Linked DNA regions of Homo sapiens: region 1 is linked to region 2. The links come from fine-mapping of genetic effects on gene expression. A gene starts in region 2. The other region holds a variant in brackets. All regions are shown on one strand. Distances are between the middles of the regions.

Evidence for each region. PIP is the estimated chance that this variant, and not a neighbour inherited with it, causes the effect. A credible set is the group of variants that fine-mapping cannot tell apart.
Region 1: its variant is the best candidate, but not a certain one, in a credible set for the expression of SLC6A4 in blood mononuclear cells (TOPMed, PIP 0.64).

Annotation. Positions count from the first base shown.
Region 1 is chr17:30,208,887-30,213,266 of GRCh38, reverse strand. SLC6A4 (solute carrier family 6 member 4) reads left to right here. Exons shown (of 15, transcript NM_001045.6): 9 at 400-527; 10 at 1,843-1,955; 11 at 2,621-2,752; 12 at 4,025-4,124. Among named protein-coding and RNA genes, the nearest start is that of SLC6A4, 25 kb to the left of the region's middle. RefSeq lists an enhancer at 146-605. The variant C/T (reference allele first, on the strand shown) is at 1,810.
Region 2 is chr17:30,233,277-30,237,656 of GRCh38, reverse strand. SLC6A4 (solute carrier family 6 member 4) reads left to right here and starts at 1,960. Exons shown (of 15, transcript NM_001045.6): 1 at 1,960-2,044. It overlaps LOC105371720 (a long non-coding RNA gene), which reads right to left and starts at 159. Exons shown (of 3, transcript XR_007065698.1): 1 at 1-159. RefSeq lists cis regulatory regions at 324-366, 150-391, 494-513, 382-552, 780-819 and 2 more, a silencer at 1,544-1,726 and promoters at 1,227-1,981, 136-1,981, 162-1,986, 1,882-2,176, 392-2,176 and 1 more.

The sequences.
Region 1 (4,380 bases), 24 kb after region 2:
TGTGACTTAGTTTGAAGATAAAGCCTAAATCTGAGGATCTCACAAATGTGAGGCTCAGGCCCTGTCCTGGCCCCCACTCCAACCTGGGCCCTGCTCCAGAACAAGGCTGGTTTGAAATGGAGAGGTCTGTGCTAGCAGGATTGCCTTTTAAAGCACCCCTGACTGCTCTTCTCCCTCCACCATGTGTGGTGGTCATGGCAGTCAGAGCTTCAGGCCTCGGCAGCTGGGTTCTGGGAGAAGGCGAAGGGACTCCGGGACAGGCTTGAGGTTCCTTGAGTTCAGCCTGCTTGTCCTTGCTGTGGCCGCCCTGTCTAAGGCAGGGCAGGCACACGGACAGATGCTCCTTAGACCCCTGATCTTGGAACTGTCTCAGGCGGCCCCTTGGGTTTTCCCCTCCAGAGATGCCCTGGTGACCAGCGTGGTGAACTGCATGACGAGCTTCGTTTCGGGATTTGTCATCTTCACAGTGCTCGGTTACATGGCTGAGATGAGGAATGAAGATGTGTCTGAGGTGGCCAAAGACGCAGGTAGGACCTCGGGTTCTATGCAGGTCCCTTGCTCCTACTGAGTTGCTTTGCTTTGAATCTTTGTAAAGATCTAACTTTTGATTTATTTCTAAATGTTCCTGAAATTTTCCAAAGAAGGCTGGGCATGGTGGAGTTCAAGACCAGCCTGGGCAACATAGTGAGACCCTGCCTCTATAAAAAAATAAATGAGCTGGGCATGGTAGTGCACACCTATAGTCCCAGCTACTCAGGAGGCTGAGGTGGGAAGATTGCTTGAGCCTGGGAGGTCAAGGCTACAGTGAGCCATGATCACACCACTGTACTTCAGCCTGGGTGACAGAATAAGACCCTGTTTCCAAAACATTTTTTATTCAAAGATTTGAGAGAAGCTCGATGCCTTAGAGATCTTTCCATGTGTTCAGGCCATGCAGGGACAGGGCAACTCCCTTGGCACCCAGTTCTGGGGCCTCCAAAATCTATGGGCTTGAAATGATGACTCTGATGATGGCTTTAAAACCAGTGGGTTTGCTTCCTGTGATGGTCTTGTGATGGCTCAAAGTCTAGTAAGCAAATATCATTTATCCTTAGAACTGCCCCTTGCAGAAAAAGAAAATCTAGCCAATATGACCACTCTATTTTACCGTGAAGTTTTTGTGGAAAAAGAAAAGAGCAACAGAGGGAGAAAAAACAGATGATGGCATCTAGTGGGCGAGGTCCCAGGGCCTTCTTGTTACAAGCATGTTAGCATGCTTGTATCTTTGGCCTGATTCGGTGCTTTGACCAACCCCATACCCCAAACGAGGGCACCCCTAGCTAACCCATGAGAGGCTGAAGACATGTCCCTCACACTTTCAAAAGGGACTTTAAAATAGAAAGAGGTCTTTATTCCAAAGCCTCTGTGACTCTACGGAAATCAATTTAACATTTCCTACTGTTCTGAAGCTGAAGACATCAGAGGGGGCTAACTGTCATGGACTTTAGAAATATCAATCCTGGTCCTGAGAAATCCCATGGAATTGTTATATGGTGGAAACTCTTATTCTCATGTGCAGCTTTGCCAGTCTCTGGGTCTTGGATCTGTTACCCACCCCCAGGGTTAATGGAGGGCACACAGTTTTCAAGATGGAAGCCCCACCCTTCCTGCCTCCCAGGAACTGGGGTGGCCACGTCAGACGGAGTAGAGTGTGAGGACGCACTTGGTGTGTGTCAAAACCTGATTCACACATAAGGTCTTGTGATGAGAATTGTAACTGTTGTTGTGGCTGAGTTTTCCTCTGTGACATCTTTGTAGGACAGGTCTTGT[C/T]AACCACCTCCTCCTCTCTCCCCTCTGTCTCAGGTCCCAGCCTCCTCTTCATCACGTATGCAGAAGCGATAGCCAACATGCCAGCGTCCACTTTCTTTGCCATCATCTTCTTTCTGATGTTAATCACGCTGGGCTTGGACAGCACGGTGAGGAAATGGGAAGGGGAAATGGGCTGTGGGAGGATGAAGAGGAAAGGAGGAGGACTCAGCTGGACTCAATTCCCTCCCATCCCTGGCCATCCCAGGCAGCTTTGGCTACTCCCTTCTGGTGCTCCAGACCCCCGGCTGACTCCTCGGCATTTACCACCCTCTGGTACATTCGAGTCATTAATGGGATAAAGTGGGTCAAGCGCCAGGCGCTTATGAGGCCCAAGGCTCACATATGTGAACTGTTATTAAGCACTGTCCCTTGGCCCAATTATGGCGCCTACAGGCCGGGGCGAGGTCTCTCCTGGGTCTCTGCTTTGCCAAGGGTTCAGTTCAGGGCCTGGAATTATTAGTGTGGAGTGAGTCTCAGCTTTGAGTTGGCCTTTCTGGTGCAAACGGAGTCTCCCCGAGAGACCTCATATATTGAAGTTCTGTCCACGTGTGCTATTTTGTTTCCTGGCTCTCCTTAGTGATGGGCTTTAAATGACAGTGTAAAACAGGGAAATACTCTTTGAGATGCTTACATGGTCCAGCGAGCCGGGGAACTGGTGATGATCAGCTTGACCAGTCACTTAGCAACCTTACCCCTCCCTCCTGTTCACTGTCCTGAAGGCCACAGCCTTGTCCCAAAGCCTCCACCGTGACTGCTTGCCTGTACCTCTCAGTTTGCAGGCTTGGAGGGGGTGATCACGGCTGTGCTGGATGAGTTCCCACACGTCTGGGCCAAGCGCCGGGAGCGGTTCGTGCTCGCCGTGGTCATCACCTGCTTCTTTGGATCCCTGGTCACCCTGACTTTTGTGAGTATCATGCCCCTCAGCTTTGAGTTGGCCTCCCCTAGGGCAGCAGAACGCTACAGGAAGCTGTTCGTCTCCTTCCATCTCACACAGTGCCCTGGCTTTGGGACCAAAGGAGGGGAGGTTGTTACTCCCATTAAAAGGTTTGTCATCAAGGAGAAGAAAAGTTGTTTCTTGTGCATCTACTTGCAGATTCCGTGCATAGTATCCAGGGGCTGTCAGCATTTTACCGCAGATCCCACTAGATTTCAGGCTTCAAAAACTATCTGGAGAAAATTAGGATTTGCTTTTCCAGCCTATTTCCACTCTTTAGAGCTGCTTTCTTGAGGATACTGCCCTGACGTTCTTCACGTCATGTGTGTAATGCCGCTTGGTCTCCTCCAGAATTTGCAATGGTAAAGAAGTCACACCCTCTCTAGAGATCCTTTTTTTTTTTTTTTGGTAGCTGAAGTAAATACTCTAAGGCAGATTTTGCAAATGTGCATCTTTAAGCCGTGACCCCGATGGCCCTGGAGTGGGGGTCAAGGGGACTGAGTGGAACCCCAGTGAGTCATGATTTAGGACAGAAAGGCAAAACTGTGACCAAGGCCCTTAATGTGTCTGGTATCCTGGGCCCTTCTGGATTCAGTCTTTAGAGGCAGGGATTCTCCAGGGTCGTGTCCACAGCAGGTGTTCAATAAGTTGAAGAAAGTTTAAAATAGATCCCAAGGCCCTTTGGAGTTTGTCTCTTAAAATTTAGTGGGGTGAAGAAATGAGAAGAATGAACTACATAGGATGGGAAGAGGCGTCTGAGTGGGTAAAACCTGCCCACACTGCCACTGCAAAGGCCAGTCCAAGAACAGTCCAAGAAACAGTTTCTTTTTTTTTTTTTTTTGGACAGAGTCTTGCTCTGTCCCCCAGGCTGGAGTGCAATGGTGCTATCTCAGCTCACTGCAACCTCTGCCTCTCGTTCAAGCAATTCTCCCGCCTCAGCCTCCTGAGTAGCTGGGATTAAAGGCGTGTGCCACCACGCCTGGCTAATTTTCACCATATTGGCCAGGCTGGTCTCAAACTCCTGACCTCAGGTGATACGCCCGCCTCAGCCTCCCAAAGTGCTGGGATGACAGGCATGAGCCACCGCACCTGGCCTAAGAGGCAGTTTCTGGGGTACTCACGTTCGGTCCCAGGTGGGATTTTTCCAGAATGATTCTAAGTGAGGAAGCCCCTGCAGGTCTCTGTAGTTGGGAGGGGTGGCTCCTTGGAGGGCCCTCACCCAGGCTCTGCTCTCCCCTCCAGGGAGGGGCCTACGTGGTGAAGCTGCTGGAGGAGTATGCCACGGGGCCCGCAGTGCTCACTGTCGCGCTGATCGAAGCAGTCGCTGTGTCTTGGTTCTATGGTAAGACGCTTCCTTCAGCCAGCTGGGTCCCTTCTACACCATCAGCCAGCACAGTAGCAAAGGGCTGATTTCACCAAAAAAGGCTGTGAGGGGCAGTTTACAAGATGTGACCTCCCGATGATGGGTCTGTAAAAGAGTCTCGGCCAGGCGCGGTGGCTCACGCCTGTAATCCCAGCATTTTGGGAGGCTGACACAGGTGGATCACCTGAGATCAGGAGTTCGAGACCAGCCTGGCCAACATGGTGAAACTCCATCT
Region 2 (4,380 bases):
TTCTGTTGCCCTTGCCTATACAGCACAAACATGCTCATTTAAGAAGTGGAACGTGGGAGGCAGCAGACAACTGTGTTCATCTGAAAGGAGGAGGCCCCACTCCCGTGCAGGCGCTGCCCCTGGGGGTGAAATTCCCAAGCTTGTTGGGGATTCTCCCGCCTGGCGTTGCCGCTCTGAATGCCAGCACCTAACCCCTAATGTCCCTACTGCAGCCCTCCCAGCATCCCCCCTGCAACCTCCCAGCAACTCCCTGTACCCCTCCTAGGATCGCTCCTGCATCCCCCATTATCCCCCCCTTCACCCCTCGCGGCATCCCCCCTGCACCCCCAGCATCCCCCCTGCAGCCCCCCCAGCATCTCCCCTGCACCCCCAGCATCCCCCCTGCAGCCCTTCCAGCATCCCCCTGCACCTCTCCCAGGATCTCCCCTGCAACCCCCATTATCCCCCCTGCACCCCTCGCAGTATCCCCCCTGCACCCCCCAGCATCCCCCCATGCACCCCCGGCATCCCCCCTGCACCCCTCCAGCATTCTCCTTGCACCCTACCAGTATTCCCCCGCATCCCGGCCTCCAAGCCTCCCGCCCACCTTGCGGTCCCCGCCCTGGCGTCTAGGTGGCACCAGAATCCCGCGCGGACTCCACCCGCTGGGAGCTGCCCTCGCTTGCCCGTGGTTGTCCAGCTCAGTCCCTCTAGACGCTCAGCCCAACCGGCCGCACAGTTTTCAGGGGTCAGTTCCTCCAAGTACAAGGGGCGGTGGCTTCTCTGGAGCTGCAAACTTGTCACTGCTATTTCCTTTCGGTCTTCTACTTCCTATCGTTCCTGGCCTCCTCTTGGGGAGAGGTAGAGCCCTCTCCTTTCCGCCTCAGGGACAACCCAAAGCAAGTACTGCATGTGCCCTTTTTAAAGTTTTAAATAATTTTAGCAAAAAGGATATTAACATTAAATCAATTTTTAAACTTTTTGAAAAAATTATCAAAACTACATGCACATGGTTCAAAACAATAGGCTCCTGCTGGGCCCTTTCAGATAATTCAAATTGTCACCAGGTTGGAGTGCAGTGGTTCGATCACGGCTCACTGCAGCCTCGACCTCCCGGGCTCAGCTGATCCTCCACCTCAGCCTCCTGAGTAGCTGGGAACACAAGCGCGAGCAACCACGCCCGGCTAATTAAAAAAATTTTTTTTCTAGAGATGGGGTCTTGCTGTGTTGCCCAGGCTGGTCTTGAATTCCTGGGCTCAAGCAATCCTCCCGCCTCAGCCTCCCAAAGCACTGTGCTCCTTTTTGACGCAGCTTTGAACTGTAGCTGGTTAACAAAATGAGAACCAGTTCTTCATTCCTTCATTGTGGAAGTCTTTATTGTGAGACTCTGGGGACGGAGAGGAATTAGACAAGGGCCTCTAAGCTGAGCTCACATCCCAGCCGGTCAGTCAGATAAACGCATGGGTATCGAGTACTGCTAGGTCCCAGGAAGAAAGAGAGAGCAGCTTTCGGGATGGGGACGATGGGGAGGTGTCCGAGGTCAAGAGAAAGCGGCACGAGCAGACCCCTGTGTGCCGTCCTGTGGGCGCGGGGCGGCAGGGGAGGCGCACACCTGCTCCTTTGTGCAGCCTCCCCCCTCCCGCAAAGTTAAAGAGCAGGAAAGTCAGGATTCCTCGCTCGGCCCTGCCCTGCCGGCTGCTCCGCGCTCCGCTCCTCCCTGCGAGCGTGTGTGTGTGTCGGGGGTCCCTCCCCTCCTGGCTCTGGGGTCGGGCGCGCACCCCGCCCCGTAGCGCGGCCCCTCCCTGGCGAGCGCAACCCCATCCAGCGGGAGCGCGGAGCCGCGGCCGCGGGGAAGCATTAAGTTTATTCGCCTCAAAGTGACGCAAAAATTCTTCAAGAGCTCTTTGGCGGCGGCTATCTAGAGATCAGACCATGTGAGGGCCCGCGGGTACAAATACGGCCGCGCCGGCGCCCCTCCGCACAGCCAGCGCCGCCGGGTGCCTCGAGGGCGCGAGGCCAGCCCGCCTGCCCAGCCCGGGACCAGCCTCCCCGCGCAGCCTGGCAGGTGGGTCCGCTTTTCCTCTCCGCCTCGAACCCACGTTTCTTTCCAGACCTTCTTCCCCGCCTCGGGGAGGGGGATAGAACCGCTGCGCCCCACCGCCCTGCGAGGAGGCGAGGAGGTGCATGCGCCCCAGCGGTGGGCGCCGGATCCTGCCCCTGCGCCCTCCACGCTCAGCAAGAGCCAGAGCTGAAGCTGACCGGCCAGAGTGGGAGACGAGGAACGTGGAGTGCTCGAAGTGGGCGGGCGTAGGGGGCTCCTTTGTCTATTGTTGCAGGGGCTTTGCAACCTCTTGAGGACCCGTGAAAGACCCCTTAAAGAGGGTCTTGAGCAAAGTGCTGTCCTGCGCTTTGGGAAGAGTTGCTTGCTTTCGTTTCAACCCATGGTTTATGTTTGATCTTTACTTTGCTGTCATCGCGTGCAGGTGGCTTTATGCAAAGGGAGAGTTCTGGTTGACACAAATGCCCAGACAGCTAGAGAAATCTCTGAGTGGCGCCTAAGTGGGCCGAGTCTCCGTGCGCTTGGGTGGTTTCACTGTCAGAGCTGAGGCGCTCTCAGACACCTCACAGGCCATTCAGAATGTATGTGAAACTCCAACTCCAACGACTGTGCTACGTGGTTGAAGGATATAACCATCATTTGCTTGAAAATTGTGTACATTCAAACTTGTTCTTGAAAAAAAGCTCTCTGGAGCTCAAGAGTGGATTTGGGTCTTGGGCTAAGGAGCAGATTTTCTTCTGAACTGGGGCTTTTGCATATTGAATTGTTCCTTTTCCATTTGGGACTCTGAAGAATTTGAGAGGGGTAGAATTTCTGAATCAGACATTACAAAGACTTTGTGTATGTATTTTTACCATCAGTTTTGTCCAGAAAAGTGAACCTGGTCAATGGATTATTTATGAGCCTGCTAGCTAACTCTCATCATAGGAAGACGAGAGCAAATATTTAATGTGTTTTGCCTTCAGTTACATAGGAAAAATGTCTAAGAAGGTGACATTGGGACTTGTGTTTAATGAAACAGAGAACTGTGGGCAGCGTCAGTGTTGGGTTTTTAGGAGCGTAGGGAGCACACAGCTTTGACTCTTTGTCCCATTACTTGCTTCTGTGTGAAGCCACTGAGGCCCCAGGGTTCGGGTTTTCCTGCCACGCACTCTGGGGTGGCAGTGACCGTTCCAATATGGATGAGTGAGAAGCAGGTTCTTATGAGGTTTGTGCAAATTGAGCAAGCCACTTGGGGCATGGGTTTTTCCTCTTTTCTTTCTTTCTTTCTTTTTCCCACTAAAGAACAGATTGAAAGTGCTTCACAATTAATCAAAAGTCCCCTCAACACTCTGGTGATCCATCTAAGACCTCTCAGAGATATAACCACCAGCACAGATATTCAAACCCATTTTTTTCAATCTCCTTGTTTAAGAAATATATATATACTAGGAGTGGGATGGGGGAATAATGTTGATGTTTTAATGGAATCTGAAAGACCTCAGAAATTCCTCTCGGGGGATGTTTAGAGTCGTCTGAGCATTTTGATGAAACTTGGAGAGGCATGTTGAAGAGTTTCGCAAATAGGTGAGGTGCCTGAGGAATGGGGATGCTTGGCTGGAGGGGGGTTAGGAGCATGGATCAGTCTGTTTCTTACAGCAGGTGCTTGCTTCCCAAACACCCTGGATGTCCGCTGCCAAACAGAAACACAGGTAACTCCAGACATTAAGCCAATACGTGGCAGCTCCTTCTCCTTCCTAGTTGTGGAATGAATGGTATAATTGGAGAGAATATAGAAGGCAGGGCTTCCTGAAGAAGCTTAATTTTAATTTGGCTTCATGAATCAACAGGATATGGTCATGACTTGACTTTTTCTAAAGATGTCTGGACAGCCAGAGCAAAAATTATACAGTCACTTTTGGTTGTTGTTGAGAAGGTAACTCAGACCTTAGTTATTCCCAGTAACATATCAGCTCCTCGTGGTCCTCAGCTCTAAATGAGGGGCTGTGGAGAGGACTGCCTAACACGATGTCCGAGTCCCCTCCAACTCACTCTGCAACCATGACCCTAACCTCTCCACTTTAAGAAAACATGAGTTGAAATGATGGTGCAAAAATGCCGGAGGGCCGGTACTCTCTACCCAGATATCACCTTCAAATCAGGGTCTCCTGGGGATCCCCTCAGGTTTCACTCTAAGGCAGAGGCTTTGCACACTCTGACACATGTAAGTAAGTTAACCCCTGCACCTTAACCACAGCCAACCAACAGGGGCCCAATAACCCGACTCCCCAGCTGCCCAAATGCCCTTTGCAAGATGCCCAGGGTGTGGTGCGGTAGAAATAGCCCCCAGGCAGCACAAATTT